2 separate regions of the Homo sapiens genome follow, and region 2 is linked to region 1. Evidence: fine-mapped expression QTL. A gene starts in region 1. The other region holds a variant in brackets. All regions are shown on one strand. Distances are between the middles of the regions. Region 1 holds the start of FAM20A (FAM20A golgi associated secretory pathway pseudokinase). Region 2 overlaps FAM20A (FAM20A golgi associated secretory pathway pseudokinase).

Evidence for each region. PIP is the estimated chance that this variant, and not a neighbour inherited with it, causes the effect.
Region 2: its variant is fine-mapped to the expression of FAM20A in whole blood (INTERVAL, PIP 0.95).

The regions. Positions count from the first base shown.
Region 1 is chr17:68,599,786-68,602,691 of GRCh38, reverse strand. It overlaps FAM20A (FAM20A golgi associated secretory pathway pseudokinase), which reads left to right and starts at 1,325. Exons shown (of 11, transcript NM_017565.4): 1 at 1,325-2,429. The coding sequence starts at 2,026.
Region 2 is chr17:68,577,307-68,580,212 of GRCh38, reverse strand. All of the region lies in intron 1 of FAM20A (FAM20A golgi associated secretory pathway pseudokinase), which reads left to right. Among named protein-coding and RNA genes, the nearest start is that of FAM20A, 23 kb to the left of the region's middle. The variant T/G (reference allele first, on the strand shown) is at 1,672.

The DNA.
Region 1 (2,906 bases):
TTTAGTCAATGCAACAGTGGTCCCATAAGATTACAATACTGTATTTTTACTGTATGTTTCCTATGTTTAGACACACAAGTACTCACCACTGTGTTACAACTCCCTACAGCATTCAGTAGTCGCATGCTGTACAGGTTTGTACCTAGGATCAACAGGCTATGCCATGTAGCCTCCGTGTGTAGTAGGCTGAACCATCTAGGTTTGTGTAAGTACACCCTGATGTTCACACACACAGGAAAATTGCCTAAGGATGCATTTCTCAGACGTGACACATAATTGTACTTCAATTCATTTAAGTCTCATAATAACCTTAGGAGGTAGGTTCCATCATTATCTTCATTTACATTTGAGGAGACTGCAAAGTCCCGAAGAAATCTTACACTGAACCACGGGGAAAAGAACTCTGGTCTGAACCCACAAGTCAAAGTATGTCTGAGGGTTCTCAATTCCAGCAAGGGAAGGGAGGGGGTTAAAGAGTAGAACTAACTTACATGGGAAGCTTTGCTGCCTGGGCAAGCAGCTTCTGGTGGATTTCCTGAAATTCAGCAGGGTGGGGCCGCCTCTCCAATCAGACTTCACTTTACTATACTATGGGGTCATTAAATAGAGGAGCCAGGAGTTCAGGACTCCCTCCCTCTTCTTCAAAAGGAAAACTGGGTGTGGGGAGGGTACATTACCTCACAGAATATTGGAGAAAGCCTAAATGTGTCCTCCAGTGATTCATTTGGGTGGACTACTTTCACACCAAGCTAAACTCAAAAGTTCGGAGTGGGGTCATCAGGGCCCCTCCCTCCCTGAGTGCAAGAAACATTTCCTCTTTTTAAAGTACAGGCAGAGTTGGAATCAAACTCCTTCCAAACAGGAAATCAGCAAGATTCTAGGTAAAACTGATACCTTACTTTTAAAGGTCAAGCTCTTTCCTTCACCAAGAGCGTGTTTCCTGAGCACCTACTATGTGCCAGGCATGTGGTAGGTAGTTGTTATGAATCTTGATGTGCCCTGCGCTCTGCAGGGGGGCGGAGGTGGAAGGGAACACAAAGAAAGAACAGATACCAACACTGCCACCCCCGCCTCCCCCCACCCCCCCCCACACACTCATTTGGCAAAGCTTACAGGAAAAAAAGGGTTTTAGGGGGCTTGTGGTGGTTTTTTTTTCCCTAAAAATAATAGAAATGGTAAAAAGAGGCTTCGGACCCCTCGCGTGAGTCCCTTAAAGTGACTGGATTGAGACCTGGGCAGGGAAAGTGGGAGGCCCGAGCGAGGGGGAGGGCGCAGGCAGTGGGTGGGTGACAAGGTGCAAGGGCAGCGCCGGCTTCGGATCGGGAGTTGGCCGTCAGCTGCGCCAGAGGCAGGTGCCAGCGGAGAGTGGGTGGGGGTGCCGGCGCCAGGCCAGGCTCGGGGAGGCCCCGCGCTACCTCTGCCTCTAGGAGTCCAGGCGCACAGACAAGCTCCCCGGAGCCGCTCCTGCTTCGCCAACTCCCCACTCGCGCCGCCCGTGCCAGCCGCCGGCACTGGCGTCTCCGCCGCCCGCAGGAGGAGTCGCGGGAGCACTAGCAGCCGCCGCCGAGCGACAGCATCCTCAGGAGAGACGCCCCGGGCTTTGCAGCCGGCGGCCTCCGTCCGCCCTCCGCGGTCGCCCCCCGCCCCGTCGCCCGTCCGCCCGCGGTGGCAGCCGGCGCCGGCGCCCCGGGGCCCTTCACCTGCCGCGAGCGTCCGGGCGGGCGGGCGCACGGGAGAAAAGGCGCAAGAAGCGGGCACCCCGGGAACCCCATTCCCTCGGCTCACTCGGCGCGGAGAAGCGACGCCCGCTGACTCCGAGAGCCCCGGTGCTCCGTGCACCTGGTCCCCAAGTTGAGGAGCGACACCCCTCCACAGGGGACTAGCCCGCGCGGGGAGCATTCCGGTCTCACTGACCCCGGCCCACCCGCGGGACTCCAGGCACCTCTTCTGCCCGCACCCCGCGACCCCTCCCGGGACCCCGGAGACAGCCGGCCTGCCCCCGGCGTCCCCCTTGGCCAGCACGCCATGCCGGGGCTGCGCCGGGACCGCCTACTGACTCTGCTGCTGCTGGGCGCGCTGCTCTCCGCCGACCTCTACTTCCACCTCTGGCCCCAAGTACAGCGCCAGCTGCGGCCTCGGGAGCGCCCGCGGGGGTGCCCGTGCACCGGCCGCGCCTCCTCCCTGGCGCGGGACTCGGCCGCAGCTGCCTCGGACCCCGGCACGATCGTGCACAACTTTTCCCGAACCGAGCCCCGGACTGAACCGGCTGGCGGCAGCCACAGCGGGTCGAGCTCCAAGTTGCAGGCCCTCTTCGCCCACCCGCTGTACAACGTCCCGGAGGAGCCGCCTCTCCTGGGAGCCGAGGACTCGCTCCTGGCCAGCCAGGAGGCGCTGCGGTATTACCGGAGGAAGGTGGCCCGCTGGAACAGGTGAGGACCCCGCCCGGGACGCGGGAGAGCGGGCGCTCTGGCCGGGGCCTCCCCGCGCCCCAGTCTCGAGTTTCCTGACGCCCCCGGCCCAGGGCTGCAGCGGCTCCACCCACGGCTCCAGCCCTGGCGCTGGGCTTAGAGTGTGTTCCCCACCCGAACCCCACCAGCTGTTGCAGACCTCACAGTCCAGTCCCGGAGTCAGATAGTACGAGGAAAAAGTTTCTATTGCAGCCGCACAGCGAAGAAACGCTCTCAGCCCCTTCCCCTTGAGCGCCTGGGTCGTCGTTGAGCCCCACTCCTGCTCCCTCGTCCACTCCCGCTCCCTCGTCCGCTCCCAAACCCCACTCTCTGTCCTGATGTGGAGGAAAGCTGCCGCTGGACTTCGGGTTTCCAGAATGAGGCCCCAAACAGGGTGACTCCAGAGCTAGTTGAAATTCAGCACTTAACTGTGCTCTTTGGGTAAACCTGGGCGCCTTC
Region 2 (2,906 bases), 22 kb after region 1:
CAAAGCATTCGTTTCTCTGCAGCCACTGTGGAAGAGCAGAAAAAGCTCAGGTCACAACCCTGGCTTTTATTCCTCCTTTCCACTTATTATGTTGTTACTTCCACTTTGTGGACCTTAGTTTCTTTAAGAGCTTGAGGAGAGGAGAATAAGACAATAAATGGAAATAACCTAAAATGCCTTTATAATGAGATTTATGCAAATGCAAACTATTAATAGTATTAAATCAAAAGACACATCCTATGTTCAATAAGTACCAAGAGGCTGTGGCAGAGGCATTTTCTGCTCACCAAAGTCCACTTGTTCTCCCGTGTGTTCCAGCCCCCAGCAGTTAGTTGGGGTCATGTGACTAGTCCTGGACAATGGGTTATCAGTTGATGTGATCTGCGTCGCTTCCCAAAGCATTGAAGAGCCAGCACTTCATCTTCCAGTTCCTCTCTTTTCTTGCCCTGATGACTGTGAAGACCATTTGTTGGGATCTTGGTGTGTTCATCAAGCTGGGTCCCTGAGTCAGTGTGTGGAGCAGAATCCCTACTGACCTTCACGAGACAAGTAGCATGAGTGAGAAATAAGCTCTTGTTTTGAAAAGCCACTCCGATTTCAGGATTAAGCTGTTGCTCTAACAGAACCTACCCTACTCTCACTCAATAGGTAAATGAATTCAGATGGATTTTGCTCTACAAACTCAAAAATCAAAGTAACATAGCATTGGTTTATTTTTCAAAAGTCCAATCACTTTGGACTCTAGGCCCTCTTTTCTGTTTGGTTGGCTAGAAATTTAGTCTGAGTCATCACTGGAGCTCCTTACCCCAAGCCCCTCATGTTGGGTCAATGTCCTTAGGGTGTCTGGGAGCACATTTGAGGAGGACCCATAGTCCATGTTCCATCACCTGGTCTCGTGCAGGTGGGTGGCACTGTTGGTTCTGCATCAAGTTCAAGCACAGGATTATTGGCTGAGACTCGGTTTCTGGTGCCTAAAATGAGTCTTTCTCTGCACACACCTAACCGTTCCCCAGCACATTGGATCACCTCCAAGAAACAGGCCAGACACAGACCCCAGTCAACTCTCCTTTCCTAACCTTGGAGTCTCTTCATGCTTCCCCAAAATTCTGTGCTTCTTTATGCACTTTCACATTCTCTGTTAAATCCCCCTGCCTAGCAAATGCCTTCACTGAGCCTAGACATGTTTTTTTTTTTTTTTTGAAACAGAGTCTCGCTCTGTCACCAGGCTGGAGTGCAGTGGCGCGATCTCTGCTCATTGCAACCTCTGCCTCCCGGGTTCAAACAATTCTTCTACCTCAGCCTCCTGAATAGCTGGGACTACAGGCACCTGCCACCACGCCCAGTAATTTTTTTTTTTTTTTTTTTTTTTTTTTTGGTATTTTTAGTAGAGACAGGGTTTCACCATGTTCACCAGGATGGTCTCGATCTCTTGACCTTGTGATCCGCCTGCCTCGGCCTCCCAAAGTGCTGGGATTACAGGCATGAGCCACTGCACCTGGCCGAGCCTAGACATTTTTAAAAATCCAAGGAAGGAGTGAGAGAAGCCTGGCTACCTGTCTAAACTTCCCCTTGGTCCTGGATCCTAAAAACACTCTGAGGCAAGGAACACAAAGGCCCAGCTATCTTCTGAGAACAGGGGTGGGTAAAATTCCGGAAGAACAAAAAACACAT[T/G]AATATCTCAATAAATTATCCTACCACATGGGTGACTGGTCATGCTGAGGAGGAAAGGAGGCCAACATTTGCTATCATTCTCTTGGTTTGCAAATCAGGTGGAAAAATAATACCACGCAAATTAGCACTAGCTCACAGGCCAAGGACTTGAAAGAATTTAATCTGAGTGAGCCACAAGGAAATTTGCTTATGAACCATGAAAATATGTGCCCCAGCCTAACCCCGTATTGTACCCACCTACATGCAGATTCCCCAACATTCAAATCCATCTCTCTTTCAAATGCCCATGCCTGTATGATAGGCAGTAAGGCAGAATTCAGACACTTTTGAAAATAAATATATTCTGGTAAACCTTTGATTATTAGAGGACCCAGGGGGTGGATTTTTAAAGCTCCTGCTTTGTCTTGGTTCTCTCAGAGTATTGCCTTTACACCACGTTTCTTCTTTTTGCATTCAGGAAAATGGTAGAGGAAAGAGAGGACACCTGTCTATCCAATGTCACTTGCTAATAGTGTGCGTGTGTGTGTGTGTGTGTGGTGTGTGAAATATATATTTATTTATTTTAGGATTACACAGTTGGAAGATTGAAAAGCACCACAATGATGACATTTAAATAAATCAATATTGCATCTTTTGCAACTAACACGTGTGTTAGTGTTTTATCAATATGCTTGTTAGGTTGGTAGAAGTCTGACAACTAAATGCTTGCTGACTCAAATTGGTTTTCTTTTTTTAAACAATTAAGTAACATTTTTAATTTTTGGCTGTGCAGAAGCTATAGAAGGAGTGGAGAGGCTCTGAGGAAGGCTTTTACGCGTCTATGGAAAATATTAAATTACACCGAGTGCAAAATCCATCAGAGCAATTTTCAGGCCATCATCAGAGGATTAAGTGCTTTATTTGCTCATTATTCTATGGCTCTAGCCCAGGATTTCTAACTCAGCATTACTGACATTTGGGGCCAGATCATTTTCTCTTGTGCAGAGCTGTCCTTTGCATTGGAGAATGTTTACAACAGCCCTCAGCACTCTCCCCACCAACTATGACAACCAAATATGTCTCCAAACATTGCCAAATGTCCCCTGAGGGGTAAAATCGCCCCCAGTGGCGAACCACTGGTCTACAGCAGGGAGGCAACAGTTCTGCAGAAAGGGAGATTCTGCAGCTGCAAGGCCCCTGTGCTGCGTGAATCATCACATCACAATTAGGTTGAGGAGCTCCGCAGTCCAGCTTTA